Homo sapiens: one gene and its partner. The protein of the gene in region 1 interacts with the protein of each later gene in a pairwise test. Each region holds a gene or a part of one and is shown on either strand. Other genes may lie near its edges.

What was found.
Region 2: the proteins of XPO7 (region 1) and USO1 interact in binary tests that used the Homo sapiens proteins (3 or more experiments, as listed by UniProt).

The regions. Positions count from the first base shown.
Region 1 is NC_000008.11:21,909,115-21,925,917, forward strand, and holds the start of XPO7 (exportin-7), read left to right. Parts: upstream 1-10,547; 5' UTR 10,548-10,656; coding exon 10,657-10,674; intron 10,675-16,803. Other genes in the region: DOK2 (docking protein 2), read right to left, coding at 197-817, 1,559-1,743, 2,787-2,874, 3,115-3,396, 4,425-4,487.
Region 2 is NC_000004.12:75,715,667-75,732,379, reverse strand, and holds the start of USO1 (general vesicular transport factor p115), read right to left. Parts: upstream 7,804-16,713; 5' UTR 7,561-7,803; coding exon 7,495-7,560; intron 1-7,494. UniProt on the Homo sapiens protein: General vesicular transport factor required for intercisternal transport in the Golgi stack; it is required for transcytotic fusion and/or subsequent binding of the vesicles to the target membrane.

The DNA of each region.
Region 1 (16,803 bases):
TCTCTCCAGGGCACCCTTCCTGCTTTGGGATGGTGACTCACCCAGCAGGCCCTGGGAGAGGCAATTTATCAGCCCCAACGAAGACAGGCCAGGCCTCGGGCTCCAGAAGGGGCAGAGGAGGTTCTTCTGATGCAGTGGCCAGGAGGAGTCACCAGCAGAAGCCAAGGGGCGGTGGACCATCCCTCTGCTGCCTCTGTCACTTTGGGCCTTTCTTTAGTACAACATTGTCATACTCAGTTCCTGGCTGCCAGCCAGAAGCAGAGAAATCCTGCCCGGCTGGCTGGACATGCTGGAGGCCAGCAGGGTCCCTGTCAGCTGTCGCCTGCCTCCTCCATGCCTCACCCCGGGGCTCCTGCGGGCTGTCATAGAGGGACAGGGCAGCCACTCCCTCGGGCTCATCGTATATGTGGTCAGGTCGAGGGGGCAGGGTCTCCTCAATGCTGTCGTACAGAGGGTCGGCCAGGAGCTGAGGAGGGACTGCCAAGATGCCCCTGAAGTTCTTCCCCAAGGAACGGGCCACCGCATCGAAGGGCACGGCATACTCCCCCTCCTGGCCCCGAGGCCGTGGAGCAGGCACCGGTGTGGTGGGTGAAGGCGGCGGCAGTGAGTCATGCGGCCGAGAGTAGGGGCTATCAGGCCGGGGCAGCGACGCGGGGATTGTGGCTGGCTGCGGTTGGGGTGTAGCGGGTGCAGCATTCTTCTGGGCAGAGATGGCCTCTTCCAGGGCCAAGAAGATCTCATTGCCTTGCCGGGTTTCGAACTCAAAGTTGCCCTCTCCAGAGACGCAGCGACGGCCTGCCTCAAAGGAAAAGGTTACCTGGACCAGGGAGAAAGCAGGTTATTGGCCAGGCCACAGGGCAGGGGTGCATTTTTTTTTTTTTTTTTGGAGACAGAGTCTCACTGTGTCTCCAGGCTGGAGTGCAGTGGCACAATCTCAGCTCACTGCAACCTCCGCCTCCCAGGTTCAAGCGATTCTCCTGCCTCAGCCTCCCTGGTAGCTGGGACTACAGGCGCATGCCACCACGCCCAGCTAATTTCTGTATTTTTTGTAGAGACAGGGTTTCACCATGTTGGCCAGGATGGTCTCGATCTCTTGACCTCATGATCCACCTGCCTCGGCCTCCCAAAGTGCTGGGATTACAGGCACGAGCCACCGCGCCCAGCTAGGGATGCTTTCTTAAACCCCATCCCTAACCCAAGCCCTGGGACCTCCAGCTTCCCTTCATGGGAACTGCTGGAGCCTCCTCTGCCCTCTGTGCTTTCCCCTACAGGCAGAGACTTGGCTCTCTCCTCTCCCCTCTCCAGGCCCTTCCTGCTCACTGCCACCATTTCAAGGATGGAGCTAGGCACTAGTTCAGACGCTGTTTACCCCTCTACGGTCTCTCCACCTCTTCTCATTCTCCTTCCTTCTACTCCACTTCTGCCATCTTGTCACTCTATTCTTTGCTTCACTCCATCTCCCTCTCCTGGTCTCTCCCATCCCCTCGCTGCTTCTCACCCCTCTTTGTTCGTAGCTTATCCTTTCTCTCAACCTGCCCTGATGCAGCTTCCCACTCACCTTGTCCCGCCCAAAGCGCCGCAGAAACCTGTAGGGCCAGTCGTACAGCTGGGTCCCTGGCTCGGGCCCACCCCACAGCTCCAGGGCACTCTCCCCAGCCCGGAGGGTATAGGACCCCCGCAGGTGGCACCTCTCACTGGCTTCTGTAGGTCTCATGGTCACAGCAAATTCCTTGTGGGGGCCGACTGGGGAGAAGAAGAGAGAGAAGGCGAAGGCAGTTAATGGGAAACAGCTGGCCTGCCTCACCACTGCCCAGTTCTAAATGAGCGTACCAGAACTTTTCTAGAAAGTATTATCCACACACTTATGGCCCCCTGCCTGGGTCTTGGAGGCTGAGCTGCTCTGTGCCAGGTCATACTCCCCAAAAGGCCAGGTACCTCCACCCCCTACCCTAGTAGGCATCACGCCCCTACCCACATCCACCCCAACCTCGTGCCCACATCCTTCCTGCCCCTGTCGCCAGAGCCACAGTCTTGTCTTCCCCACCCCATCTCTCACCCCAAACCAGCCACCACCCTAGTCCCTACGGTCACAGCTGCAGGTGAAGCCTTGGCCCTGCCCTCCCACTGCCGGGGCCCTGGGGGTGAAGCTTAGATGGAAGGCAGATGAAAGTTTCTCCTCCCTCCACCAGCTCCTCAAAAGCAACACCTGGGGCCAGGCGCAGTGGCTCATGCCTGTAATCCCAACACTTTGGGAGGCTGAGGCAGGTGGATCACCTGATGTCAGGAGTTTGAGACCAGCCTGGCCAACATGGTGAAACCCCGACTCTACTAAAAATACAAAAAATTAGCCAGGCGTGGTGGCCGACGCCTGTAATCCCAGCTGCTCAGGAGGCTGAGGCAGGAGAATCGCTTGAACCCGGGAAGCGGCGGTTGCAGTGAGCCGAGATTGTGCCATTGCACTCCAGCCTGAGCGACAAGAGCAAAACTCCGTCTCAAAAATAGAAAAAAGCAGCACCCTCACCTGGGCCCCCAGCCTTCCCCTCTCCCACCAGCAGGCCCTAGGTAAGATGAGGTGAACCAAGGGAGAGACTCAAGGCAGGGTAGGCTCCCTACGTTGGGCTGCACCCGGAAGCGAGAAGGAGAGGCTGATAACGGGGCTGGCCCAGGCTGGGGATAACCACAAGGCAGGAAGACTCGGGGCCAGCAGCTAGCCAGCCCACACCTCCTCTCCACCTCACCCTGGGGAGAGCCCCCAGGGGAGAGCAGGGCAGCCCCCGCCCCCTCACCTGTGACTGCGCTGCTGTACAATTCATTTTCCTCCATGCAGGGCCGGCTCTGCTTTCCCTCTGGCCCCGAGAGCTCCTTCCTCTGCCCCTAGGGAGGAGGCGCCCCGTCTCATCACCTTCCCCGATCCCCAGGCCCCCCTCTGGCCCAGGCCTTCTTTCAGGCCACCTCAACCTGCTGGCTCTGTCTGCACACTGGGTTCGGGTCCCCCCACATGGAGGAAGCACCCCATCACCCTGACCTTGACACCTGTAACACTTGCCCACAGGAAGTATCTAACACCCTCGGCCTGCACGCCCCCTTGCCCTTTCCGCACCCCGCGCGACTCACGGGGAAGGCCAGGAGGCAGATGGCCTGCACCCAGTCGCCGCGCTCCGCTGCAGGGGCCGCCAGGAGGTACAGGCGCTCCTTGGTCTCCAGGAAGAAGGCACTGGTGTCCCGGGGGCTGCTGGCCTCTCCGCCGGCCTCGGCCACCCGCAGGCAGTCACTGAGGCGGATGACCTTCCGGGCAGCCTCACACCGACGAGGCTTCTCCGGGCCCTCCTGCAGCTCCAGCCGGGCCAAGGCGCAGTCCGACCCTCCATACAGTGAGGCGCCGAAGCGGCGCCATTTCTGTGCCAGAGGCGTGGGAGGCGGGGGCGGGAGGGAGCCACCCAGAGACGGGGAGATCGTGAGCCAAGGGGAGAAGAGGAACCGTGGGAGGGGGACTGGGGCAGCCACTTGGAGATGGGGAGAGAGAGGTGAAGATCACATGAGACCCAGGGAGGCAGAGAAGAGGACAGTGACTGCAGGAATTAGAAAATCGGAGATCAGCCGCCAGCCCCGAGAAGGAGGCCCACGAGCAAGAGCAGAGACTGCCCAGGCAGAAAGCAACGCCGGGATGAGCCCAAAGCAGGCTGCAAGAAGGCCAAACAGGCCCACCGCAGTGGACTCCAGTCTGGGGAGGAAAGCGGGGCAGTGGCCGAGGCCCAGAGGAGGGAGTGAGGAGGGCGGCGTGTGACCCGGGCTGGAGACCTCATTCTCCTTCTGTGCGAAATCCTGAAGGAGAACTTCTCTCCACCCTCCTGAACCTTGCTGCCTCATTCCTTGATAGGTTGGGCCATGAGAGAGAGACAGGTGTGCCCCCCAGTGTTGGTTAGGGGACGAGGACTTCCTGGTTCAAGGAGGCCAGGGAAGGGGAAAGAGGATGGACAGCCGGCTGGGGTCCAGGCCCCCAGAGGCCCCAGCCCAAGCTGAACACCAGCCACATGCACCCCACTGGGGTTGGGAAGGAACCTCTATTGTCATCCTAAACTGTCCCTCCAGCTGCCCCTTCCATTCCCTTCCAAGGTGTCCGGTGAAAAGAAGTCAACATAGAGCAAGAGAGCAAAAGAGGCAAGAGATGAAAGCAGCACATCCCCCACCCCCACCCAGGGCAAACAGCCCTCAGTAAGGAGCACAGTTTGGGACCTGGTTGGGGCCTGGTTCAGGAGACAGCGTCGGGTAGGAAAAGAGCCCTCCCAAAGTTGAGCTCTGGGTCTAACTTGGTGGGTGCACAGTCAGACCTATAAGGGTTTTGAATATGAAACTCCCTCTCCAACCCAGGAATTCTAGCAGCCTCCCAGGCCCCCTGCCCAACCCCAGCCCAGCCTCACTCCTACCTTTCCAAACGTCTGCTGCTGCTGAAGATACAAGAAGCCTTGTTTCACTGCCCCGTCTCCCATCCTCTGACCATCTCGGAGCCCCAGGCTTCAGCTCTCTCCTTCACTCCTGCCCTTGCCTCTCTCTTCTTAGCCGTGTGTTTCCCTTCTCTGAAGTTCATTTCCTCTCTGCCTAGGGTTTTCTATACTATTCTAGTCTGCTCGATGACGACAGGCTGATAGGCCCTGCGGTTTCTTCTGAGTGTGTGTTCTTTTTTTTCTTTTTTTTTTTTTTTTCTGAGTGAGTTTTATACTCAAGCTTCCTGCATTTCCAGTGAGTTAGAGACAATTTCCAAAAAGCTAAATGCCAGCTCTTCAGTGAGCAACAATTCAGGTACAGAAGTTGGCACAGGGAGGCGCCAGCAAAGAGTGGCTGGCCCACTGGAACAGAGACCCAGAAACCAAACTAGACAGTGAAATCAGTAGTGAAGGCCCCCCCCTCCAAGCTGTACGCAAGTTGGAAGGGACAAACCACTAAGTTACAAATAAGGAAACAGGCTTGGAAAGTCTGAGGGATTTATTCAAGGTCACCAAACCAGAACCCAGGTCTCTCAACGCTTAACAGCTGAATGACACACACGGCACTGCACAGAGAGACACATAAGACAGCTCATGTGGGCCTAACCAGATACCAGTTTCACAAACACACACACACAGAGAGAGAGAGAGAGAGAGAGGCAACCGTTTAACTACATGCGAGCACTCCCTGTCTGCCAACAACACACACTCACACCAACCCTGTAAAGATTCTAGAAAGATGATCATCCCCTCTGGAGAAGGGACTGACTCCCCAAGTACATCTCAACTGTTGGATTTTTGCCTTCTTGCAAGCATTCCTGAGCATTAGAAAGATGCTTAGGTTTCATCTGCAAATTATCTTAAGTTTCAATAGCAATCACTTTCATATACATTTTGAAAATGGTTCAGAGTTACCGAAAGTGCTTCGTAGCTCGCAAAGCTTCTAGGCACACACTTTTCATCAGCCACGCCATCCTTTGACAAAGGCAGGGCAGGTATGAACACACTTATTTGCAACTTGCCTGAGGTCACAGAGGTAGTTGGGGGCAGAGGAAGAAGTAGAGACCAGGGCTCCTGATCTTTAATTCAACATTTTGCAGGGCCCCTAAATGGAATCCAGATCCATGCAAAAAGATCCATTGCTGTGGGGAAATCCAAGCTGCTCAGAGAAGTTTAACTTAAAGCCAGATGGTTTAGAGAAGCAATCTGTATGGAGGCACAGTGCAGAAGGGTTGGAAAAAACTGAGACTCAGACCAACACTCTTGGGGTTAATCCCATAACAGGTGCTTATATAAACAGGCCCATTTCCTCTACAACAGGGGTTCAGTTACCGTGGCAAGGAGCGAGCAGCACCGTGCACAGCTTAGGCCTTCTGCTGTACATGCCATGGACTGGACCAAATAAGCTTGAAAAAAATGAATGTCATGAGCTCTGTGAGGACAAGGATGAGTCACTTCAAACTCACTGCCCTCAGCCGTGATGCCTGGGTTTGAAGAGGTTGATCCAAAGCTCAAGGGAGAACCAAGCATACTGTTTTGGGAAAAGCACACCTTGGGAAGTGGTTAGGGGTATGGAAATGGGATGTGACCTAATCTTCCTCTTTAGTCCCTAAGGAGAGTCAACTCTGCCTGGGAGCTGCATGGTCTTTGGTGCAGGGAGTGAGAAGAGGAGGGCTTTATGGCCATCTTAGGGGCTGCCAGAGCAGTGCCTTCCAAACTGTAACATGTAGATCTTGTTCAAAGTAGACTCCAATAAAGTAGGTCTGGAATGAGCCCTGAGATGCTGCCGGTGGTGGGTGGGTCAAAGCACACTGAGTAGCAAGGTGACAGAGGATGTCCCCTGCTAACCTGATCGCCTTCCCTGAAGGCAAAATGGACACATTCCACTCAGAACCACAGGGGGGCACCCAAGTTTACCAGATTACTTGAAAGTTGTTTAAACCCGGAGGCCTGAACCCCAGGCAATCCAGACACTCCCTTGTCATCCCTTGCTTATGGAAGCTGGAGGAGTTCTCCGGTAGCCGTTGACTGCAGAAGATAGGGCAGCAGAGTATATACCAAGAGCAACACCCTTGCAGTCCTTCTAGGCCCCTTCAACTGTCCCTAGCAGGATTTGTGGCGACCCTGATGTAGAAGCACTAACCCCAGTACCTTCTGCCTAGCCATGGGGAAACCCTGTAAACAGGAGCCCAGAGACATTGCTCCAAGACACAGCAGAAGCGCACAGAATGAGAAGCCCTTAGGGTCCACAGGCACCAATGATGTGTAGAAAAAGCACTGTAAAGGAGTTGAGGGTGCCTCTTGGCTTGTCTTTGTTTTTACGGGAAAGGAAAAGGCACTCCAAACCCCACCTGTGGCTCATTCTAAGCCACTGGGATCCTGTCCCTTACAACAGTTTCTCTCAGCAGGAGTCAGGAACCACAGCTCCAAGAAATTTTCATTACTATTCTGCTGCAGTGATTAGCAACCCAATCCTAACATAAGAGGGCTGGGACCTTGTCTTTGGGGCAACAAAGGAAGGAGGAGAGGAGACTGTGTCTGACTCCTTGGGCCGGCTTGGGGATTAGGTAACCCTCAAATGATGTGCAGGTAGGGAAGCTAGCTAAGGGGTAGTTCTGGGCACACAACAGGTAAGTACGTATAGGATAGGCAGAGAACTGATGTGGGCCTGAGACGGGTGAAGGACTGAGCGAAAGAATTAGTGAGCGTGTATTCTGAAGGACCCCATCCCTGCCCCTTCCACCCCCAGTGGTCCCTGACTGTGGGGTGTGGGAGGGGGACAATGCCAGTCTCTTGAGCTTCATTTGTAGCCCCCCACCCTTTCTCCATTAAGTCTATCACTTTTCTCAGTACTAAGGAAAGAGAGAACCCAGTTCTAGAAACCCGCTGAGAGGAAGGGCCTATAACATAACATAACATAACATAACATAACATAACATAACATAACATAACATAACATGTTACCTAACAGTGACATAATATTTAGAATGCTTTATGTCTTCATATGAAACCCACATGCACCCTAGAATGAGACATAAAGAAGTTAATACATTCAACAGTTTTTTAAATTTATTTTTATTTATTTTTTGAGATGGAGTCTTACTCTGTTGTCCAGGCTGTAATGCAGTGGCACGATCTCGGCTCACTGCAACCTCCGTCTCCTGGGTTCCAGCCATTCTCCTGCCTCAGCCTCCTGAGTAGCTGGGATTACAGGCGCACACCACCATGCCTGGCTAATTTTTTGTATTTTTAGTATAGACGGGGTTTCACCATGTTGGCCAGGCTGCTCTCAAACTCCTGACCTCAGGTGATCCACCCCCCTCAGCCTCCCAAAGTGCTGGGATTAAAGGTGTGAGCCACCATGCCCCGCCTCAACAATTATTTACTGAGCATCTACTCTGTGCAGAGGTACTAGGGATACAACATAGACAGAATCCTTGTTTATACTATGTCTGCTTTTAGTTGGAGGGACTGATAATGAAAGAGTAATAATATGTAGTTTTGGACAGTGATCAATGCTGTGATAGTGATAGGCACAGGGGACAACTTTCAAGAGGGTGGTGAGAAAAGGCTCTCTGAGAGGTGACAAGTGAGCTGAAAAGTCCATGAGGAGAGTGAGCCAGCCATTTCACGATCTGAAGGGAAACCAATCCAGGCAGAAGTTACTGCAAGTGCAAAGGCCCTGAGGCAGGAGATCCTGGCTTTGCAGAACTGCAAGGCCAGAATGACCACAGAGCATTGAGCCAGAGGGGGCATGGTAGAGTGAGGTCAGCTCATACGACCTCTTGAGCCACAGCAAAGATTCGAATTCTAAATGCAACATGAGGCCACTTAAGGATTTTAAGTAGGAGTGTAAATTATCTGAATTATGATTTTAAAGGAATGTTCTGGCCAGGCGCAGTGGCTCACACCTGTAATCCCAGCACTTTGGGAGGCAGAGGCGAGTGGATAACCTGAGGTCAGCAGTTCCAGACCAGCTTGGCCAACGTGGTGAAACCCTGTCTCTACTAAAAATCCAAAAATTAGCCAGGTATGGTGGTGGGCGCATGTAATCTCAGCTACTTGGGAGGCTAAGGCAAGAGAATCGCTTGAACCAGGGAGGCGGAGGTTGCAGTGAGCAGAGATGGCGCCATTGCACTCCAGCCTCGGCAACAGAGCAAGACTCTGTCTCAAAAAATAACAAATAAATAAAATAATGTTCTGCAGCGTCCAGCTATATGGAAAATGGGTTATCAAGGGGCAAGACAGGAAGCAGGGAAACTAATTAGGAATCTATTACCAGAGCACAGGAGAAAGGTAATGGTGGCTTGGACCAAGGTGTTAACAGTGGAGATGGATGGAGAAGTGGTCATATTGGGTATATATTAGATATAGATTGAACAGGACTTGCAGGTGACTTGCATGTTGGGGACTGATAAGACTTGAAGAACCAACTCCTGAGTGTTTATTAGGAGCAACTGGATGAATGGTGGTACCATTTACTGAGGAAGGGAAGACACAGGGAGAAACACGGGGAGGTTGGGGTGCGGGGGTGGGGGAAGGGAGGGTGGACAGAAATTTGGGCCTGGCCCACTGTGAAACTGTTACCTCTATTCAGTCCAGTAGGGAATCCAAAGAATTTCCATTGCAATTGTGACTCTGAGAATATTTCATTGCCCGATGCCAGGTTCAGAAAGCCACTGACCCCATCACCCCGCCTCTTTATACGCTCGGAGCTAATGATTGGACGCTGGGAGGTTTTGGGGAAAAACAAAAACCCAACATCTGAAAAGGTCTATGCTCGCTAGAAGTTAACAGTCAAAAGCTCTGCCACTTAAATCTTCTGCCTCTTAAATCTTCTCTGAGTCAGCCTAATTGGCAGAGCCTAATTTGCATACAGAACCCTAGCTGCAAGGAAGTTTGGGTAATGTAGTTTCCAGGTGCCCTACCTCTGCAAACCAGGAAGACCTACTAGGAGGACGGAAGTCGAAATGAATGCTGAGCACCGGTCCACTACATCCACCAAGGGTGTGTAATTCACTACCACCATCATTTGCATATGATGGTAGTCCCCTGTAAATACAAACTTCAAACAATCAGTGCTCTCAGAATCCAGCTATGATCTAACCTGGGGGCCTTAAAAGGAAGCCACAGTGGAATCCAATGGAAAACAGGAACCGGCATTATCTAACAGATAATTCCTAGTGAGGAAGACTGGAATTGGCCTCAGCATGCAGGGGCTGACCTTATCTGACCCAGAGAGATGGCTTTCCCACTCATACCTCCACAAGACCGAGCCTAGGGGTCCTAACCACCAGCCCCGCTGCCTCTTCCAGCATCTGACCCTCTCGGGAGGCAGTCTAGAGTATTGGCAACGAGGACAATGTCTTTGGGAAGCCAGAACTGTGCCTTCGTATGTTTTGATCATCACCACCATTCGGTGGTTATTTCCATGAATGTTTATCAAGGACGAAAGGACAGAAATGAAAAACACGAGATCAACCACTGGGGTTGCTGGTGAAATCCAGACCAGAGAGCGATGGCCCTGGTCCAGAAAGCTAGACAGACACAAGCACAGAATCGGCCCCCGTTGAGTAGAGGGCATTGGAAAGTAAGGAATCTCGCAGGCAGCCTAGGTGGGGTGTGGGGGGTCCCCGTAGCTGCAGGGTGGGGTGGGGGTGGGGGTGGGAGACGTCCAGGGGCGAGTCAAGGGGGAAGACGGTTGGGAAGAGAGGAAGCCACTGGGTGCAGGGGTCCCGGGGCGGCGACAGACCTCGGCCCCCATCCAGGAGCCCTCACCACGCAAACGAGCAGAAGGCAGCGCCAACTCCCACTCCAGCGCCCGCCTGCCGGAGCGAGCGCGGCCCCTTTAAAAACCATGTAAACAAAGCTTTGTTCCCCCAGCTGCCCCTCCTTCGCGCTCCCCCGGCCCGCTCCTTCCTCCCACCCGGCGTCTCCGGGCCGCTGACGTTGCCCGCGCCTTTACGCCGTCCCAGCGGTGCTGCGCATTCTCCAACCACGGCCCGGGCCGCCGGGGCCTGCGCAGCTGAGCGGCGCTACGCCACGAGCGCAGCGCGACGAGTCCCCAGCGCGCAGGCGCAGCGGCGACGGCGTCGGCGGCGGCGGCGGCAGCGGCTCCGGCCGAGGTGCGCGCTGGGGGGGAGGGGGGGCCGGAGAGGAGCATGAATGGAGCAAAATGGCGGATCATGTGCAGGTGAGAGGAGCCGCGGGGGGGAGGGGGCGACCACGAAGAGCGGCGAGTGGAGTCGGGGGTGCACACGGCCCACAGGGCGCCAGCCGGCTCGGGACTCGGCAGGCCCGCGCCGCCGCCACTCGGGGCTCTGGAGCCGCCGCCCGTCCCGGAGCCCCGGGGCCTTTCCCGCCTCCCGGGCCGGGGGCCTTCTCCGTCCCCTCCCACCCGGTCCCACACCTCGCGCGCGGGGCTGCAGGGACAGGAACGGGCATCCCGGCGCGCGCAGCCCACAACGTTCGTCAGTCACTGTCTTCGTCCCCGGGGGAGGCCTCCGTCAAGTCCTCGGGCCCCCCCGCCCGCCCCCCGGTGAAGCGAGGGGGACCCCCTTGCTGACTTTACTGAGGGGGACGCCCCCATGACGCCCGCCATCCCTCAGCAGATAACAAAAAGGAAACCTCGCGCTGATAAACCTCGCTCTCCGGAGTCTTTCCCGCCGCCTTCCTCTCACGCCCCGGAATACGAGAGACCCCCCAGCAACCCCGGCCTCCTTCCCCCTCCCACGGATGCGCCCTTCCCTCCGACACTCCAAATCGTACAGCCCGGAGGGCCGAGCTCCCCGGTCTTCCAAAATGGGTGCTCAGGCCTCGGCCCGCCTCCCCTCGCGTCCCCCTAGCCACAGTGAAGGAGTTGAGCGCCCACACCTCCTATGAAACACGGGGTGGAGGGGGGTGTGTCTGAAATGAGAGATGCAGGGTTGGGTGCAGACGTTGCTCGGGAGGGTCTTGATCCGGCTCAAGAGCTGCTCCTAGCGTGCTGTGGGGCCAGGCCACTCTCCTCAAAGACAGGCACAGGCCCTAGAAAGGGACAGCCCATACCAAACCCAGTAGCAGATGGAGGACTGCAGGGTTTAATTTCTTGCAAACTAGATAAAGTTTTTCCTGTCTGTGCCAGAGATCTGATATTTTTATGACAGTTATTGATGCACATCCATTGTGGGGAACCTTCCAATTTTCTAGGTAACCAAGTGCACAGGTTTTGTGTTGTGGCAAGGAAAGATTAGAGGGCAAGAAGTGTCGCCTTTATATTCTGTGGCATCATTCCTCAAGTAAGAAGAATGATCTCATTCTTAATACGTCTACAAGAATCTGGAGTGGTGTGACTTCTGCCCCTTTCTTTGGAGAGAAGGGACTAAATAAAAGACTTAATTTTCAGGCCAGAGATCAGTAAAGTAGATCTTCGGAGTGTGCGGGACAAGTTGTCAGGACAGAATTATAGCAAGAAACGTAATCACAGGTGGAAAACCACGGGATTTGTGTTTCAAAGCCAGTACCTTGGCTTAATTCAGAAGTGACAGTAAAAGTTGATACAAGGAGATGATAATAATGATAATAATAATAGTATAGCACCTTGCGTTTTATAGCAGTCATTTCTAAGAAGCATGAAATATTTTATGTGATTTTTAAAAATTCTTGGATCTTACAAGACTCAGGCAGGAATTACTTCTGTCATTTAAAGGAACAAAAACCAAAGCACAAGAATGATAATGAGATTTGGTTAAGGTAAGTCTAAGTGTCCCAAAGTCTTTGGAGTTTGGGTCCAGTGCGCTTCCTTACTGGGGGTTGGGGGGATGTCTATGAGCATTCTAGAACAGGCTTTGAATAGATAGCCTTTGTGAACCATGCTTCGGAATGCAGAGGGAGTCAGTACTTTTATGAATATACATCGTGCTATTTGCTGTTTCCCGTAAAGAAATATCTCTTAATGTGATCTCCCACATTTTCGAAGCATAAAGGTTGTCATTCCTGTGAAAGTCAGGATGCATCAAAGCAATCTTCACAGCATTTGTCGCTCCAACGAAGGTCTGTCTTATTTTTAGTAAGATGTTGTTCTCCCACTCACCACTCAAAAATCTACGGAAGTAAGAATTTATTAACTTTTCAAAACAAAGGGGAGCATGTTGATCAGTGTTTTATTGGTACCCTTTATTTACTTTTAAGAGCTGCAATCTGTTGGTCTAAATTAGTGCTTAGTGGTCTTCATATCAACGGGGTAAGTTTGTGAGTGAATTTTTTTCCCTTTAGAGAGAATGGGACATACTGCTTTTCTTTGTCAGACCACTAAGTGTTAATAGTATTGGGCACTCACAGATGTTAAGGTGGTACTTTATTGTGGCAGAAAACCTTCTTATGAAAAAGATACACGCTTCCCTAGGTATAATGAGTAAATAAAGGATTCATTAAAGACAGTCTGCAATGCATTGAGGGGAGGGTGGCGGGGATATTTTTCTTATAACACTAATCAAACGTGAAGTTTATAAAGGTGTCTGCTACAGATTCATGACTGATTATTGGAGAGTTGCATTTGTTGAACTAAATAGTCGAGTCATTATGTTATCTAGTGCTTTTCTGAACCACCAGGGTGAGCAGTTTTTTCATAATTGAGGCTGAGTGTCATATGATTCTCGGGTTCTCTCAGGCTGATGTCTTGGATATCTCTCTTCTAAGGATATGTATTTTATGGACGATTTTAAGTGCTATAAAACTTTAGTAATGGGAAAATTATAATATTTGGATTGCCCTTTAGCTCTGTTGATGTTACAGGCAAGTGTCTGTAGAAGTGTGCCCTTAAGCAGCTCCTCGATGTGATGGGTTTCTTACTCTTGGTCTTAGATAACCTTATCTAACTTTCACCCTGAAGGCAGGGTGGTTACAAAGCTTTGCGTGGGAGAAAAAAATCAAACTTACTTATGTGTGTTTAATTATGTTTAGTTGCCCTTCCTTTCATGTTTTTTTTAACATATCTAAAGCTGGTAAGTTATCGCAAAGAGATGAAGACAACGCTCAGTGAACAGTGGTGATGAAGAAGATTAAGAAGGATCAGATGTTAGTTTTAATAGTGCTAGCTGGTGTTCAGGAGCTCGAGAGGAAAAGGAAGGAAAGAATATGATTTATATATCGAATATGCTATTTAATATGAATTATATTAGTTTTACCATAAATAATGGAAATGAAGACTGATTCCAGGATTTTGCTGGAATTACTACGTTGTTGTGTTGGGTCTTATTATTTACTGGGCTTTGCATTATGACTGTACTAGGAGAATGTACTATTTGCAAAGTAGTCATAGTTTGTTTTAAATTCCAGGCACAGTAATTAAATATTGACTACCAGTGTAACTCCAGGGAGTTGTGAAGAATCATTACAACTTGTCAGGTTAAATTTTAGCAGGGTGCAAAAAGTCGGCCTGATTATAGCAAAAGTGATGGTTGTTTTTTCAGCTTTTAACAATATGCAAGGAAATGATAAGTGCTATGGGTAGTCCATTTTGAAAAGGGAGTTCCGTACAACTTTTGAGAATTTTAAATGGAAAAAACATAACTTTTCTAACTTTTTTCCAGTTCGACTAATACCAGAATGCTTAGTGTGTGCAAGGCCCTTTCTGTGCTGGGCACTTCAGAGGATTCAGAATGAGAAAGACACTGGAGCCAGACTGCTGAAATATCCAATTCTGATGCTCTTTTGGCAGGCTTCAGGAGCACACACGTAGATACAAGAAAGAATACATTGATTTCAAAACATGCTACATCTGTGTTGGGTGATAAGCAATAACTATATCCCATCACCCACTCCCACCCTGATTATACCTCTTTCGTGGGTTTATACAAATAATATGTGTGTATTTTATTTCATTATTTTACTCCTATTCAACACCACACTGGAAATGTCTGTATTTAAAACATATATATCTATATATTTACTTGATTACTCTGACTTTAGTATATTTCCTGAGAAGCCTTGAGAAAAATTAAGGGATGTATATATACGTGTGGGATCATTCAAACACTTAACACAGAAAAAACAAAATACAGTACAGTGATGGAAGAATCTCTAATTTAGATGAAGGTATAGAAAGAAGTATCAGGAAGATCCCTGTTCTATATCTTACAGAGAAATTAGCTTCCATTTGACCCAGAAATTGATGTTCATAACCACCAGCTGTATTTTCTTTTTTCTTGGTTGGGTTTTGAAAGCAATATTGTACCACAGCCTTTCGAGGTGGGAAAGTTGCCAGTTTAAACCAATAAGCTAATGTCTCTCTGTAGGTACAACTACTGAGGCTACTTTGCCCACTTCAGTATGTGCAAGGAAGATAGTGTTTTGAAACTGCATCTTTTTAAAACACCTAACATTATCTCACATTTTCTCAGGGTTAGGAATCTGGGAGTGGCTTAACTAGATGGTTTTGGTTCAGGGTCTCATTTGCAGTCAAACTCTCAGCTGGGGCTCCGGGCTGCAGTCAATCTCAGGGCTTGACTTGAGGATAGAGAATTTTCTTTAGGTTTACACACAGCGGGCCTGGTCAGGCCTCAGTTCCTCACTGGCTGTTGTCTGGAGGCTGCAGTTCTTTACCAATGGGCCTCTCCTAGTGCATCATTTTTAAGGACTTCATTAAATTCTGTAATGATATATGCTGTGTATAAGTGACCCATCTTTGTTATTTTTTTCAAAAACTTTTTATTGAAATATATACCTGCAGACAGGTACAGAAATCATATGTGTTCAGCTTGATGAATTTTCACAAAGTGAATACTCCTTACTAACCAGCACCCAAATCAAGTCAGTATTATCGGTGCCCCAGAAGTCCCCTGATACCATCTCAACAGCTACCTGTAGCCCCCCTCCCCCCCCCACCCCACTAACTACTATCCTGTCATTTTATTTTTAAATCTGCTTTTAGAACTCAAGCTGAGTAACCTGAGAGTTTTAGCTTCAAAGCCAGGGGGAGAAGCAGTACAGAGCAGTGATTATACAGCTTTGGGGGGATTTATTTCATAATATGATGGAAGCTATGTTACTGCTCTCTGGTGGGGGTGGGGAGAGTGTGCCTACACAAAATTTTACCCACAATTTTAGGCCATTCATGAACCTTGATAACTAGAGTTTAAATATATGTTTCTTTTTAGATGAAAATGCTCACAACATTTTATTGAGAAACTGATTTACAAGTATTTCTCTTTTGACTTATTTGAAAAGCAAGTTCAGGACCACGATAAATGTTCCTGGAGAGTTACATGCAAGCTGAATTTTTAAATATTGAAATAAATTCTTGAGGATGATTAATGGTGACCACTTAAGCATCTACTAATATCCCATTTTTGTTACTGTGCAGACACATAGAAGGAAATACAAGATGTGATATTCTACTTCCAGGGCCTTACATTGAATTGAGCATCACAACAAGCCTGGTCATTGAGTTGTGAATTTGTAGTGAGACTGGTTTTGTCGACATGTCCCTGAATGGGGGGCAGTCACTACCCCGTTATCTTTTCCCCCATTCCAATACATGTCTGGAATACATTCATTCCTAACATTTATAGTGACTCATTACTAGGAAATTCTCAATGGAATGGGATTGGTACCCAGGAGGCATATCAAAATCTTGGGGGAGGGAGAGAGTTGTAAAAAACCTAGATCCTAAGTATTTCTGATATTTGCTTCAATGGCTGTTCACCCCTTCGCACATGTGTGCATGCACACAAGGACACACACACACTCCTACTGCCATAAAATGGGAAGGATGTATTTAAGAGAAGGCAGAATTGGAAACTTCATGCTAGCATTAATTGATATCATTTAATGCTCACCGCAGCAATGTAACATCGGTATAGAGATAATAGTAATAGAATTTTCCTTGAAATAAGCTGATTAAAAGACCTGGTATCCCTGGAAGACTGGAGAACTCGCTGTTGGAAGATTTAGATGATGTTCATGGTGGTGGTTATTGTAAGACTTACTGGAGTGTGACTTGGTTGGTCATAGGGAAAGGGGGATACCAGTATTAACTGAGTGTCTGTTATATGCCAGGCACCATGCTAAGCCTTTTATAGTGTTATGCCATTTAATTGGGAAACTCGTTTGGTCTCTGAGCCTGGATTAAGTGATCTGTGAAGTCCCTTGTACTTCAAGCATTCTGGATGGGATTTCCAGTTGTCATCCTTGTATTCTCTCCCCAATATAGCACCGTGTTCTCAATTCATATGTACATGTTTGTAAAATTCCTTAAAATATTTATGCTCAAACCAACATTTCCATTTTATCTATCTTAAATATATCTTCCTCTTCTTTACGCCTAATTTCTTAAACTCCCAGA
Region 2 (16,713 bases), on another chromosome or scaffold:
ATATATGCCATGGAATACTATGTCGACATGAAAAAGAATAAAATCATGCCCTTTGCAGCAACATAGATGCAGCTGGTAGCCATTATCCTAAGCGAATTAATATAGGAACAGAAAACCAAATACTGCATTTCCTCACTTACAAGTGGGAGCTAAACAATGAGTAAGCACGGACCTAAAGATGGGAGCAGTCAACACTGGGGACAACAACGGGGGGAAGGTGGGAGAGGGGGCGAGAGTTAAGAAACTACCCATCAGGTACCATCCTCACTACCTGGGTGATGGTTATACATCAAACCTTAGCAACAGGCAATTTACCCATGTAACAACTTGCACATGTAACCTTCTAAAACTTTAAAGTTATGGGGAAAAAATATTGTTTAGAGAAATGTTTATTTTCATAAACACATTTGCTTATGAAACAATACTAATTTACGTTTAATCGTTTATAAAAATATAAAAGCAAAAAAATTAAAGGACACTAGTGTAATACAGCTTGCAGTATTTTTTCACAATTCTTTTTTTTAAGTATTCAGTAACTACTTAACTGACAGGAAAAAATAAAGAACAGGAATGGCAATTAAAATGCTAACTCTAATCAATCAATCATTTATCCAACAAATATTTGTCAAGCACCTAATATTGATTTAATTTTATGATATAATCTTACCTTGAAATTTAAAACATAGTTGTACCTTCCTAAAACAGAATTTCCCTAACTGTAAGACAAATAATTCATGCTAATAGTCAATTCACTTATGTTTTAGATGAAATAAAAATATTATTGTTTTAGATTACAAAAGTCATTTTTTTTTTTTTTTGAGACGGAGTCTCACTCCATTGCCCAGGCTAGAGTGCAGTGGTGCGATCTTGGCTCATTGTAACCTCCACCTCGTGGGTTCAAGTGATTCTCCTGCCTCAGCCTCCCTAGTAGCTGGGATTACAGGCACCTGCCACCATGTCCAGCTAATTTTTGTATTTTTAGCAGAGACAGGGTTTCGTCATGTTGGCCAGGCTGGTCTCAAACTCCTGACCTCAGGTGATCCACCCGCCTCAGCCTACCAAAGTGCTGGGATTACAGGCGTGAGCCACCAGGCCTGGCCCAGAAATTTGTTTTAAATTTAACTCTGTTACTGAGAAGACTTTATTAAAACAGCAAAAGCAAATCTTATCTTCATATGACCTAAATTATTATAATCTATAAAAAGAGATGTGGGAACATTAAAAAATCAAACACAAGTCTCTTTGTAGACAAATCCAATGAATCCATTTCCATTATAGTTACCTTAAGTCAGCCAAGTAATATACTGCTTCATTTATTCTCCATGCTCTTTCCCATAAATGAACTATGCTTTTCAAAAGGACATCGTTTTAAGCAAGGGGTCATAATGAAACATGTCTACCAAATAACCTATCACAAATGCTAGCATCTCAAAATCTAACACCACAAAAGTTTTTCTGTAATCCCAGCACTTTGGGAAGCTGACAGGAGGATTGTTTGAGGCCAGGAGTTCAAGACCAGCCTGGGCAACATATTGTGAGCCTGTCTCTTTAAAAAAAAAAAAAAGTTTTCAAATTAATGGTGAATAACTTTTGACACAAAAAATGTTTATGGCACTTCTGCTTGAGGTATAAAAATAATAAGCATAACTTTACTATACCTACAACAGACAAAAAGCAGAGTACAAAGCAGTAATATTAATAATAAAAGGTAAATACATAAAAAGAAAGAGGAACAGTATTTGGTATCAACAAATGTATATAAGGAATTCTAATATTCTTTCCTAATCAGATTCAAGAGTAATGTTTTTAATGAAATAAAGGAAAATAAAGAAAAAGGCATCAGAATTATATATCCTCTTGGACAATTTTTCCCTAAGTATGCTTCTCAAAATAATAGATAACAAAGTTCCCTAGAGGAAAAAAAAAGGTCTGGTCAGATAAATTTGGCAAACAGCTTACTTTTTATCTACATTTTAAAAATATCTGAAACTATAACACAGTGCCTGCTTACAAAACCTTGCATAAATACTAGAGGTTTTTTCTTTGTTAGTGGTCGTTGCACACACTTCTTTGCTGACAAAATTTTTTTCATGGACATCTATTCAAATTTTTTGAAGCATACCTTGGTAATGCTACGGCATGTATAATTTAAATGATTCTAACTTTTAAATGAACCCTATATAATCTACAAAATTAACCTTCCAAAAAGCCATGTAGTATTCAATAGGCCCTACTTAAAAAGAGTGCTTCGATATAGAAATGACCAAAACACAAATCATTATTACAGTTCTCTCCGACATTGTTATTGCAAAACAGGCCAAGAGAGAAAACACATTCCAGTTATGACATTGACCTGGTTATTAATGTAGAATACATCAACCCAAATAGGAATTTCAGACTACACATTTATAGTAACATGGTATAAAATGTGCTTGACTAAACGAAAACTATGTCTAAATTTAAGTCCACACTCTTTAATAACAATTTTTATTAAAAGAAAATATGGCTGTGTTTATATTGTTAGCCCTTCTGCTTTCTGAGACAGCTGATGAAAGTTTGATCTGGAAAGAGACCCCATAACAATGTTCTAATTCTGTATGCTTTTTCTGGACATTAGCAACTTTCATGTCTCGGGGTCCAACTTGAGAACAGAAAATGCCTCTATGATTCATCATCAAATGTAGTTAACACTTGCTTGGAATTTTCAAGAAACTAGCTTTAAAAAAGGTACAAGTTGGGGGCTGGGCGCAGTGGCTCACGCCTATAATCCTAGCACTTTGAGAGGCCGAGGCGGGCAGACTGCCTGAGCTCAGGAGTTCAAGACCAGCCTGGGCATCACAGTGCAACCCTGTCTCTACTAAAATACAAAAAAATTAGCCTGGCGTGGTGGCGTGCACCTGTAGTCCCAGCTGCTCGGGAGACTGAGCCAGGAGAACTGCTTGAACCCAGGAGGCGGAGGCTGCAGTGAGCCGAGATTACGTCACTGCACTCCAGCCTGGGCGACAGAGCGAGACTTCGTACCCCACCCCCCTACCCAAAAAAAAGGTGCTAGATAGAAGGCAGATATAACACTAAGCACACATAAGCTTACATTCAAAAGCATGAAGTCCCTGGTGGTCTAGTGGTTAGGGAAAAAGAGAAAACTAAAAAACAAAAGCATGAGTAGGATTTGTACTATAATAATATGCACCCAGCAAACTGTGTCAAGGCTAAAGAGGCTTCAATCACCAGAAATCAGTGTCAAGTAAAAAAGAGAAATGAAATGTAAAAGTACCCGACTCTGGGGCCAGGTGCCGTGGCTCACACCTGTAATTCCAGCACTTTGGGAGGCCAAGGCAGGCGGATCACGAAGTCAGGAGATCGAGACCATCCTGGTTAACACGGTGAAACCCCATCTCCACTAAAAATACAAAAATTAGCCGGTGTGGTGGCAGACACCTGTAGTCCCAGCTACTTGGGAGGCTGAGGCAGAAGAATGGCGTGAACCCGGGAGGGGGAGCTTGCAGTGAGCCAAGATTGCGCCACTGCACTCCAGCCTGGGCCACAGAGCGAGACTCTGTCTCAAAACAAAACAAAACAAAAACAAAAACAAAAGTACATGACTCTAAAACAGAAAAAGTTTAATGTGGATGAAATTCTGAATTTAAAATATCCAGTACTTTATAGAATTGACTATCCTATGATAAAATATTTACTACTTGACAGGTTCTCAAGAACATCTTTCTTTTTGAGACAGTCTCGCTCTCTCGCCCAGGCTGGAATGCAGTGGCACAATCTTAACCACTCAGTGGTTGCTCACTGCCAACCACCGCCTCGATTCTCCTGCCTCAGCCTCCTGAGTAGCTGAGATTATAGGCATGTGCCACCATGCCCAGCTAATTTTTGTATTTTTAGTAGAGACAGGGTTTCACCATAAAAATGTGCTTGACTCCAGAAAGGAGTTTGGCCAGGCTGGTCTCAAACTCCTGACCTCAAGTGCTCCATCTGCCTTGGCCTCCCAAAGTGCTGGGATTATAGGCGTGAGCCCCCGGCCTGAAGAACATCTTAATATCAGTCCAAAGTTACTCTTAACTAAGAGTATGAAAAGCTAGATACTATACAATCAATCACATAACTCTCACACATTTAAAAGATACTTAAATTCAATAAGAAAAAAAAAAACAAGAAAGCAGTCAAAGCATTTAGTAAATATGAAAAAATCCCTTAAGTAAAAAGCTTGACACAATGAACTTCATTTGAGAACTTCAGTTTCTAGTCTTTAAAAAGTGTTTTAGTACCTAGTAACGTAAGTTGCTATAATTACAGATCTGTGATTTCTTTCAAATAAAACTATAATTAATTCATTTCACAAGTATTTACTGGGCATCTACTACTGTGGAAAAACAAAGATTAAAATACATTATGAACCCTGCCCTAAAGACACTTTAAGAGTCTAGAAGGAATAAGATATATGCACACTGTAGTTAAAATGTAAAGGTAGCTCAGAAAGGAAAAAGCATCTGAAACGTGCTGGGGGAAAGTACAGATTAGGGGAGGCGCTGATGATGAATTTAAATAACAGGTCTAATTCAGACAAAGAAAAGAGCCCTTCCATTGGAAAAAAGATGTTAGAAAAAGCAAGAAAGATGGAAAGCCACCATGAAAAAAATTTAATTTTGCAGAAATGGAAAAAACTACAAAATAATAAATGATAATATAGAAGCTAGGGGTTCCAAGCTCTGGTAACTCAAATATCCTGGCCAGACTAAATCATCAATTAAAACATCTAAAATTGTATATACACTCCACTGATGCTCTATAAATACTTCTAAATTAGTAATCCATGACCCCTTTTACCTGTTGTACTTCCTGGTGGAACGAAATAGTGAAACAAATTTTATTCATACTGTACCTCAGAATAATAATTTTCAGAAGGCAAATTGCTTTATTGTGGAGGTGATTAAAAAGAAAAAATAGAAGACAAATTACTTTTCCAATTTTAAATGTACATACTCAAAGTTAGGCAAGAACAAGAAAGGACCCTTTCAGTTTATATATACAACATACGCAAGTGATACTCAAGTTTCACTTTGAAATTGTGATATAAAAACTATGTTGTTCCATCCACAGTGGCAAGATCAAAATGTTCTAGCTCCAACTCTTCAACCTTGTGCAAGCTACTTTAGTGCTCTGTGACTATAAAATGAAGAGGCTCTATCTGGGACTTTCTAGCTTTAAAATCCTATACACTGTGAATTCTATTCCATCTTTTCTACAGAAGTCACTGTGACAAGGCCAATAATAACAAAAACAGGAAAGGGTATTCTTCGTTCAACCCACACATAGTAAAAATTACCTCTCATTATACATCTACTAAGTGCCAGGCTCTTTCTACTTATTTCACTTAATCTTCATTACATCCTAAAAAGCAGGCATTTTCCTCATTTTACTTAGAGGGTATTAGCTATCTCTTACATATCCAATCCAATCAGGGGTGGAAAGCCAGGATTCAAATCAAAGTCTAACTCCACAAAGCAAGCTGTAATAAACCATATTTCATAACCTGGTGCCACAAACACAAATATCAGACAAAAAAGTGGTGGGCTGTGATTATGGTATGACTCTGGTAATCTAGACAGAACATGATCTTCTAGTAGGGTAGCTCAGGCTGCCTTGTTGCCAAGTGGGAATGGATGAGTGAAGCCAAATGTGTGCGTGTGTTACAGTGAGAGACAGAAAAGTGATTTTCAAATGAAAGAAACAGATTTACCGGCTTTCATCTTATGCTTTAAACAATTCTAACCAGACCTGCGCAGTTATTTTTTTTTTTTTTGAGATGGAGTCTCTTCATGCTGCCCAGGCTAGTCTCAAACTCCTGGGCTCAAGCGATCCTCCTGGCTTAGCATCCCCTTAGCTGGGATTATAGGCCTGTGTCACTGCGACTAGCTGCAGTTAATTTTAGTAATACTATATAAAGTTCCCAAAAAGTATTGAAATACAGGCATGAGCAATAAAGTGAAGGCTTTGAAGTAAGGTACCTCTTGGTTGAATCCTGGCTCTATTATTAGCAGTGTGACATTGGTCAAGTTACTTCACCCCTTTTTTTTTTTTTTTTTTTTGAGACAGAGTTTCGCTCTTGTTGCCCAGGCTAGAGTGCAATGGCACGATCTCTGCTCACCGTAACCTCCGCCTCCCGAGTTCAAGCGATTCTCCTGCCTCAGCCTTCCGAGTGGCTGGGATTACAGGCATGTGCCACCACGGCCGGCTAATTCTGTATTTTTAGTAGAGACGGGGTTTCTCCATGTTGGTCAGGCTGGTCTCGAACTCCCGACCTCAGGTGATCCGCCGGCCTCAGCCTCCCAAAGTGCTGGGATTAGAGGCGTGAGCCACCGCGTCCGGCCTACTTCACCCCTCTCAGTCTCATTTTTTGACTTTTAAGGTGAGAATACTCTCACCTATCTTGCAGGGTAGTTAACGATTAAAGCATAATGTGGAATATAAAGAGCTCAGCACAGAACCTAGCACAAGGTAAGAGCCTGACAAATGAAAGCTACTATATTATCCCTCAGGATCCCATTAACAAAGTTAGCCATTAAAGTGTTATACTTAGTCTCTTTTATGTAGATCTAAAATTCTTCTCAAATAAAAAGTTTATTTCAAAAAGGCATACACCCTCGATTCCATTAAACACTAACCAAACTTCAAAATAAGTGTATTCTAAACCTAGAATCTAAGCAACTATTAAATAATGTTTTCAGCGGCTAACCATTTTTTTTTTTTTTTAAATAACGCCGCAAATCATGTCATTAGGAGTTCAGGCAGAAAGCGGTGGACGTGTCCCCAAAGCAGTTTGAGCGCTTAAGATCCCTACTACGTTCAAGGTAGCATTTGCCAAATGATATATATTTGGGTGAGCCCGAAAAGCCGGATCTGAACAAATAACACCAGGCAGAACGACCGCTCTTCCAGTTGATGGGACAGGAGCAGGTGGATTTGTCCTTCAAAGAATATCGTTTTATTCTTAGCCAAATGCTCTCACCAACAGCTGGGTTTTAAACCTTCTCGCAGTTTTCCCCAACGCCCCAGTTTCAGACTGCGAGGGAGGGAGCAGGACTTCAGGCTCCTCTCGGCCAGTGCAGACGAGCGAAAGAGAAAGAGGGAGGGGCCCACGGCCCCGAGGGGCGTGGGAGGCAGTTCGGGCCAGCTCGGCCGCGCATCCGTCCCTTCCCGTGCGGTACCACCTGCGGACCACTCTCCTAGCCCGAGCTTCAGGGCCTACAGAGCTGCGGGGCGCGGCCGCCGTCAGTCCGGCCGAACGGCAGCAATGGGGACTGAGCTGGGGGCGTGATTGAATAACTCTGGGATTTCAGGAGCGGAAGGAGGGCAAAGGGGGAGGCGGCATGTGGATGCCCCCTCCATGGTGGGACGCTGGAGGTGACCTTCGGGTCTCCGAGTGCTCCGTCCCCGTCCCTGCCCGGACCCCTTCCCAAGTCCCAGACCCGCTGCTCCTCTCACCGTCTCGGCTTCTGTGTGCTGGGGTCCGGCACTCTGACCCCCCATTACCCCGCGGAGGAAATTCATCTTGCCGTTCAGCCACCAGGTTTACCGGCCCCTCCGGAAAAAAAAGAAGACAACTTCCCCCGCCCTCCGCAGGGCCTGGGCCCCAATCCCGCACTCTACACACTCCTACTGCTGCCACCACCGCCTCCAACTCGGCGGCCACTCCAGCCCTCTAAGCCCGGAAACAGCCGCCAGCAGCGGCCAAGATGCGCATGCGCGGGGACGTGGCATTACGTGGCGGCTCGAAGGTTGAAGGCAAAAGGGGAGCGGAGGCGAGAGGAACCTCTTAGCTAGGTTCCGCCGAAGCCCCACCCACTGCGCAGACCCCGCCTCCCACCGCAGGGGCACGCCTCCTACCCCCACCCTTCGCGGATTGATCCTGCTGGCCGCAGCCACCCACGTGGTGGAAGCCCGGCCCTGCAGGCTGGAGAGGATTTGATTAGACTACGCGTTTCGACTTGCAGGGTGTTTAATCGTCGCCAAGCGGGACTTACTGCAAGCTATCAAATCTGAGGTCTTATTTTGTTGAGTCGAAAGTGAAATTTTCCTTTGGCCAACGTGACAGGTAAGGCTTCCTGGCGCCTGAGAGGGTTCGCTTGGTTTGACGGTTTACTGGTACCAGCATTGTGGCTTTCTGATCCCGGTAAATTGCATTTCTTTACAGGGCTTTGTTTGGTGGTAAAAAGGGTTACTAGACACCCCTCATTCCACTGCCACTGGAGGGCGCATTTCTCAGCTCTTGCTCTTCAAACCTGCTGAAAGGAATTCCTAGATCTAAACACCAGGTACACCTCTATTTTCAAGTGTCGTCAGGAGGAAACCCATCAAACCCTACATTTAGCTTACTAGAGAAATACATTGTTCTGCTGTGTCAGTTTGGCGAGTAACATAATGTTTCGTTATTAACTCTCAACCCCTGTGTTTTCAGTTTTTTTTTTTTTAACATGAAAAATTGTCATTTTCTCTAATTGGTATGCCTGTTCCTTTGGCAGTGAGGTTGTCAGTACACATGCTTCTGGAATAGTCTTGTAAATTTCTTGAGGCTAAAAAGCACAGGTCTAGTTAGCTAACTGACTCATGCACCTCTCCCCTTGGATTCCCCACAGGTCTCAGATTCAGCATTTAAAATTGAACTCGTCATCTTTCCCTGCCTCCCTTAAAGAAAAAAAGTCAATATGCTGCTTCTACTGTGTGCGTGCCGTGCTCAGTAGTACCACTGTCCAAATAATTGCCTAAGCTAGACAGAGGAAGCTGGGAAGAATCTTAGACTCTGGCTTTCCACCCACACATGTCCAATCAATAGTCATGTCCTATCATTTCTATTTATAGAATATTTCTCAAATAGGTGTTCTGCTCTCCATCCTCTGTGCCTGTGACATAGATTATGTTCTTCTCATCATTTCTCATTGAGATGACAGCAACAGCCTCCTAATTAGTTTGTCTGCATTCAGCCCTGGCTTCCTTCCAGTCCAATCTCCAGTCCATCCTTGGGTGAGACTAACAACAACAAAACATCTGTTCATGTCATTCCTCTTAAAATCCTCCAGTTGTTCCCCATTCTGTCCAGAATAAAGTGCAAACTCCTTAGTTTGTCATACAGGCCTGTTATGATTTAGCTCCTGCCTACTTTTTCAGCTCCTGCCTCCCCCACATACTCTGGGCATTTTTCTCAGACCTGGATATGCCCTTCCCTTCCTTTCTCTTCATCAAGCAAACTCCTGCTAATTCCTTAAGGCTCAACTCTGACATCATTCTTGAAAGCTTTCCCTAAAATGTAGGTACACATCTATATGTTAGCACTTTGCAGTTATTGATACTGTATATGGTGTACATTGAATAAATGCTTGCTAAACCAAACTGTTAAGGGCAGGACTATGTTATTCATTTTATATCTCTGTTGCTTACCACTGTCTCATAAAAGGTGATATTGATGGATAAATGAATAAATTATTGAAAGAATATATGAATATTATACTAAGAGGAGGTTCCCTTTTTTTAATCTGTAAAGTGAAATTGTAGGGAAGACATCATAAGCTATGTGTTTCCTAGTGCCAACATTTTAAGCCTGGGCAACTTGGAGAATGGTGGGGTCATACTGCCAAAAATACTGTGCGCTAAGCATTGTCCTCTGCTTTAAAGCTATACACTTGACATTTTACCGTAGACATTTTCCATGGGAGCATTTTGTTGCAGCCTAAAAAAAGTAACCAGTAAATTACTCAGCATTTTTGTTACTAAGAAATGCATGCAAAGAACTTCACTTAAGCCCCTAAGCCTCACCCCTCCCTGAACCTCACTTCACCTTGTCCCTGAAACTCACTCTACCCCATCATCAGGAATGAGGCTCATAGACGGAGTGGGCCACAAATGTCTATTACTCCTCTTATTTAATAATTAAAAAGAGTGCCTTGACATTTTAGCAAAGTTGTTTAAAGGCACCAGCCTTGTCAAATGTCCTGTTTTGTTTTAAACTTTGGTGGGTACAGTAGGTTACTGTACTTCAGTGAGTAAAGTAGGTTACTATACTTTCGTGAGTGTAGTAGTAACAGCTTACTATGAATTTTCCCTGCATTTGACCTGTTTTCTTCCCCAGCAGCATCCCCTGCACAGGAGTGATGGACAGTTGGGTGCAAAGGTGATGAAGGTGGGATCCCCGAGGCATTGTCACTACAGAACAACCATGAAATAGACTCCTTATTTCAGAGGAAGAGTTACATATTAATCCACTTCTACTGATTTTGTAGAGGGAGAAAAGTCAGGGACTGTGTTGTATTCCTGTTTGCATCCTTTAATCATCTAGTATAATTCCTTTAATATGGTAGATGCTCAGGAACTACCTGAGTTAATAAAGGAAGAGAAAACTTGAACAAATTGTGACGGCCTGACTTGCACTGTTAATACTTCTGGCTTTCATAAATCTAAGCATTCAGGATAAGAGTCCTATGAATCATTAAAATACATATAATCAAAATTAAGAGTGATCTTTTTCTAAACCAAACCTGACAATAGATCAACGAACAAAATTCATTGGTTTGAAATTCATTTTTTCAAATTGCTTTTTTCAGTGGCCCACTTAACTTTCTAGTGGAAAACTCGCAAAAACAACGAAATATAATTGCATAAGATTGTTTTTTAGTTGGGGTGGTAGTAAGGTGGAATGTTGTCTATGCCTGCTTGGGAGGATAAATATAAATGATCATTTGTATTTGAAATCTATCATATATAGGTTTTTATTTATTTATTATTTTGGTAGGTTATAAGCCCCTTCAGTATCGTATATAGGTTTTTAAAGACGTAGCTCATGGCTATAATCCCAGCACTTTGGGAGGCCAAGGTGGGAGGATCATTTAAGCTCAGGAGTTCAACACCAGCCTGGGCAATGTGGCAAAACCCTGTCTCTACAAAAAATAAAATATTAGCTGAGCATGGTGGCATGCGCCTGTATTCCCAGCCAGTAGTCCCACTTACTTGGGAGGGTGTGGGAGGATCGCTGGAGCCTGGGAGATCAAGGCTGCATTGAGCCATGATTGTGCCACTGCATTCCAGCTGGGAGGATGGAGTGAGACCCTGTCCCAAAAAAAAAAAAAAAAGACTAGTTGAGGCTGGGCGAGGTGGCTCACGCCTGTAATCCCAGCACTTTGGGAGGCTGAGGTGGACGGATCACCTGAAGTTGGGAGTTCCAGACCAGCCTGACCAACATGGAGAAACCCCGTTGTCTACTAAAAATACAAAATTAGCTCGGCGTGGTGGCACATACATCCTGGAACTCCTGGGTTCAAGAGCTCTTCCTGCCTCAGCCTCCTGAGTAGCTAGGACTACAGGTGCACACCATCATGCCTGGCTAATTTTTTTTTTTTTTTTTTTTTTGTAGAGATGAAGTCTTGCTATGTTACCCAGACTGATGTCAAACTCCCGGCCTCAAGCTATTCTCCTGCCTCAGCCTCCCAAAATACTGGGATTGCAGGTGTGAGCCAACTGCCCCAGGCTTCAAAATATTTTTATTTATTTATTTATTTATTTATTTATTTATTTATTTATTTATTTTGAGATGGAGCCTCGCTCTGTCACCCAGGCTGGAGTGTAGTGGCGCGATCTCGGCTCACTGCAACCTCGGCCTCCCGGGTTCAAGCGATTCTCCTGCCTCAGCCTTCCAAGTAGCTGGGAATAGAGGCACATGCCACCATGCCTGGCTAATTTTTTGTATTTTTAGTAGAGACAGGTTTTCACCGTGTTAGTTAGGATGGCCTCGATCTCCTGACCTTATGATCCGCCTGCCTCAGCCTCTCAAAGTGCGTGAGCCACCGCGCCTAGCCCTCAAAATATTTTTTTTTTTTTTTTTGAGACGGAGTCTCGCTCTGTTGCCCAGGCTGGAGTGCAGTGACGCGATCTCAGCTCACTGCAAGCTCTGCCTCCTGGGTTCATGCCATTCTCCTGCCTCAGCCTCTGGAGTAGCTGGGACTACAGGCGCCCGCCACCGCGCCCGGCTAATTTTTTGTATTTTTGGTAGAGACGGAGTTTCTCCGTGGTCTCGATCTCCTCATCTCGTGATCCGCCCGCCTCGGCCTCCCAGAGTGCTGGGATTACAGGCATGAGCCACCGCGCCCGGCGCCCTCAAAATATTTTTAAAAGCCTTAGGAAATCCTTGGGAGAGGAGAGTCCAAGAAAGAAGGTTTTGGTAGCTGGGCGTGGTGGCCTATCATTCCAGCTATGCGCAGGAGGCTGAGGCATGAGAATTGCTTGAAGTTGCAGTGAGTCAAGATTGTGCCACTGCACTCCAGCCCAGGTGACGGAGTGAGACCCTTTCTCAAAAAAAAAAAAGGGTTCTGGGCCCCCCCATCCTGCTCCATTTGATTGGTTTCATTTGTTTATACTTCCTGTTTCGCTTGAACAAAAAGATTCAGAGGCTAAAATGTTGGACAGCTACCTCTCTCAGGAGATAAGAAATGAGACCAGGCCGGGCACGGTAACTCACCCTTGTAATCCCAGCACTTTGGGAGGCCGAGGCGGGTGGATCACCTGAGGTCGGGAGCTTGAGACCAGCCTGACCAACATGGAGAAATCCCGTCTCTACTAAAAATACAGAATTAGCCGAGCGTGGTGGTGCATGCCTGTAATCCTAGCTACTCGGGAGGCTGAGGCAGGAGAATCGCTTAAACTGGGAGGCGGAGGTTGCAGTGAGCCAGGATCTTGCCATTGCCCTCCAGCCTGCGCAACAAGAGCGAAACTCCGTCTCAAAAAAGAAATGAGACCAAGGTAAGGACTTGGAATAGTTGAGGTGTCTCACATGCTATAGAGCCCAGAGTTCCTGCTTTACTTTTTTTTAAAGGAATGGTAATTGTTGCCTCCTGTGGTTGTTTTTGGGATTTTATTAGATAATATCTGTAACGTTCATATTACTTAGTACTTGAAACATAGTAAGTACTCAATAATGATTAGAGTGGAGACCCTGATCATCTTCGGTATTATCAATTTCTTTTTTTTTTTTTTTTTTTTGAGACGGAGTCTTGCTCTGTCGCCCAGGCTGGAGTGCAGTGGCGGGATCTCGGCTCACTGCAAGCTCCGCCTCCCGGGTTCACACCATTCTCCTGCCTCAGCCTCCCAAGTAGCTGGGACTACAGGCGCCCGCCACTAAGCCCGGCTAATTTTTTGTATTTTTAGTAGAGACGGGGTTTCACCGTTTTAGCCGGGATGGTCTCGATCTCCTGACCTCGTGATCCGCCCGCCTCGGCCTCCCAAAGTGCTGGGATTACAGGCGTGAGCCACGGTATTATCAATTTCTTAACAACTGAACGTTTAAAGATATTACCCTGTAAGTCTTCAACTCCAGCCCTACTAGCTCATGTTACTGAGAAGTCTGTTACTTCAGATGAGGCTTAATCTGGGGTATCAAGCCAATTTCCCTGTTATCTGGGTTTTCACTATTTCTGGACTCTGCTCTCCTTAACTGTTTTTGTTTTTTTTTCTCTAGCTCCATGCGGGGCAAGATGGCTGCCAGGACCTATAGTCCTAGTATCCTAGGCCCAAGTTCATCAAAGACTCCCAACCTCTCTCCTAAGAGTCCCAGCAAAAGTCTCCTTGTGACTCATTTTACCTGATAGGGTCGCATGCCTATGTGGTGAGCTAATTCCTGTAGTTTAAGGTTTGAGATGTTCTGATTGGCCTTGAGTCACATTCCCACCTCTAAAGCAAGGAGTAGAAGTCTTCATCTCATCTCAAAGCATATGGCATAGGAGCTGGGGAACAGGGACATTCACATTTCTCCTAGGAAATCTGGAATAGTATGCCAGGAGAATGTTTATCAGGATAAGAAAAACAATACATGCTCACTGTATCCCCTAACGTACTTAAACTGCTTGCCAGTTTTTTTTGAAATTATTTTTCCAGCCTTATCACTAGTGTATGCTAGCATAAGTTCTGCCTCTCTGCAAAGATTCAAAAGATCATGTTACATTATTTAATAAACGTAATTTGACATTGCATTGTACTTAAATCAGCAAGCAAATCTATACCCTTTTTTTAAAGAAAGTATAACCCAGGTGTGTTTCCATTTTTAAGAAAATACAATAAGCAGAATTACTTATGAAACACCTAAAAAAAAAAAAGAAAGAAAGAAAGAAGAAACACCTAAATTAGGAAATCCCATTTTCATTTCCAAAGGACTTTTTATTTTTATTTATTTATTTATTTTATTTGTAATTTTTTTTTTGCGACGGAGTCTCATTCTGTCTCCAGGCTGGAGTGCAGTGATGCTACCTTGGCTCACTACAATCTCTGCCTCCCAGGTTCAAGCTATTCTGCCTCAGCCTCCCAAGTAGCTGGGATTATAGGTGCGTGCCAGCACACCCAGCTAATTTTTGTATTTTTAGTAGAGACGGGGTTTCACCATGTTGGCCAGGATGGTCTTGATCTCCTTACCTCGTGACCCACCCGCCTCAGCCTCCCAAAGTGCTGGGATTACAGGCATGAGCCACCACGCCTGGCCAAAGGACTTTTTATAAAACTGTTTATCGAGGGACAAGTTTATCAGATCCAGGCCCTAGCACTGTTTCTTGTGGAGAATTTGACTGTTACCTCCCAACACCATTGTCTCTCCCCCAACACCTCAAGCCAGCTGAACAAGTATGTCCTGAATAGCCAGGGTAGGGTTGCAGTCTTTACTGTCCCATTCAATAGCTAGACCAAAGCCTTTGAAGTTCGCATTGGGTGATGCCAAGATTCCATGTAAGCTTAAGATGATTTTAATGGAGTCATTGCCAACTTCCCAGCAAGCTATGATTTTAGAGTAGTTGGCAGCTGATCTCTGTCATTTGCCTGAGGCTATGCCCCAAGCAAGTATTTGTGGCAGGAGGGAGTGACAGAGTTGTCTCTTGAGATCAGACTGGGCCTCCAGGCCAGCAGATGGTAGCTGACCTGGACCAAAACTTTCCAAAGTCAGCCCACACTTCCAAGGTCCCCTCTCTGCAACCCCCTTCTCCCAGGCTCAAGCGATCCTCCCATCTCAGCCTCCTGCGTAGCTGGGACTACAGGTGTGCACTACCACACCCAGCTAATTTTTATTTTATTTTATTGTAGAGATGGGGTTTCACCGTCTTGCCCAGGCTGCTCTCAAACTCCTGGAGACCCACCCGCCTCAACCTCCCAAAGTGCTGAGATTACAGGCATGAGTCACCATGCCCGGCCATAATTCCAGTTTTTTAATGAAGTTGACTTTAAGATGCCAATGGCCTGTGATTGACAAATACACTAGGGAGATAATCAGGATGGGCTCAGTAACCTGCAGATGTTATGTGGAGGGTCCAGAACTGGCATAGGCAGGTGGTTTGGGAAAAGGAGAGGTAGTTGGGTGTGGACATAATTTTCTGCCAGTAGCTTAGGAGTCCATGGGCAGAGGGATGGAAGATGAGAAGATTGTAAGTACAAAGAGGCAAAGAAGAGAAGTCTTCTGTTTGGCCTCTGTCCCCTGATGCTTCCTTACAGGATCGCACAAACACCATACTAGTTGTGGGTGGTATAAAGAACTAGAAGAGGCCGGGCACAGTGGCTCACGCCTGTAATCCCAGCACTTTGGGAGGCCAAGGCGGGTGGATCACCTGAGATTGGGAGTTCGAGACCAGCCTGACCAACATGGAGAAACCCCGTGTCTACTAAAAATACAAAATTAGCTGGGCATGGTGGTGCATGCCTGTAATCCCAGCTATTCGGGAGGCTGAGGCAGGAGAATCGCTTGAACCTGGGAGGCGGAGGTTGCGGTGAGCCGAGATCGCGCCACTGCACTCCAGCCTGGGTGACAAGAGGGAAACTCTGTCTCCAAAAACAACAACAAAAACAAAACAAAGAAAAACAAAAAAAAACAAGAACTAGAAGAGGGCCGGGTGTGGTGGCTCACGCCTGTAATTCCAGCACTTTGGGAGGCTGAGGTGGGCAGATCACCTGAGCTCAAGAGTTTGAGACTAGCCTGGCCAACATGGTGAAACCTCATCTCTACTAAAAATACAAAAAATTAGCTGGCTGGGCATCATGGCACGTGCCTGTAATCCTAGCTACTTGGGAGGCCGAGACACAAGAATCTCTTGAACCTGTGAGGCGGAGGTTGCAGTGAGCTGAGATTGCACCACTGCACTCCAGCCTGAGTGACAGAGCAATACTGTGTCTCCAGGGGAAAAAAAAGAACTAGAAAAGCTCCAACTTGCCCTTCCCACTGCCCTCTCCCCACCTCCAATACCTACACACATGACCTTTTCAGGACAGGGGCACAAAGTCTGTGACCCAAAGTGACCTAGACCCTAGTCCTAGATGTGCTCTCTCTTTCCCAAGTATGTGAGTATTGACTCCTAAAAAGCTCAGAATCTAAGGTCTGTATAGGTTATTGCAGCAGCCGGTCTCCTTCATGTGAGGGTGCTGCTATCTAGGTCTCGTTCTAGTATCTGGGTCAGAGAAAAATGACTATACTGGTATTTTGGTATTTATGGTGTAATAAATACCAGGATCTTTGTTTTTTAAAAAGTTCGTAATTTGTCCCATTTAAAACCAATCAGTGAAAGGAAGTATTTAACACATTTCATTTTAACATATATTAGTGATTGCTATCAACTTCAGAAAAGCCCCGGGGCATGGCTGATGGGTTGATTAGCTTTCAGTGTCTTCTTTCCTGCACCTTTAACTCTGTTGCATGAA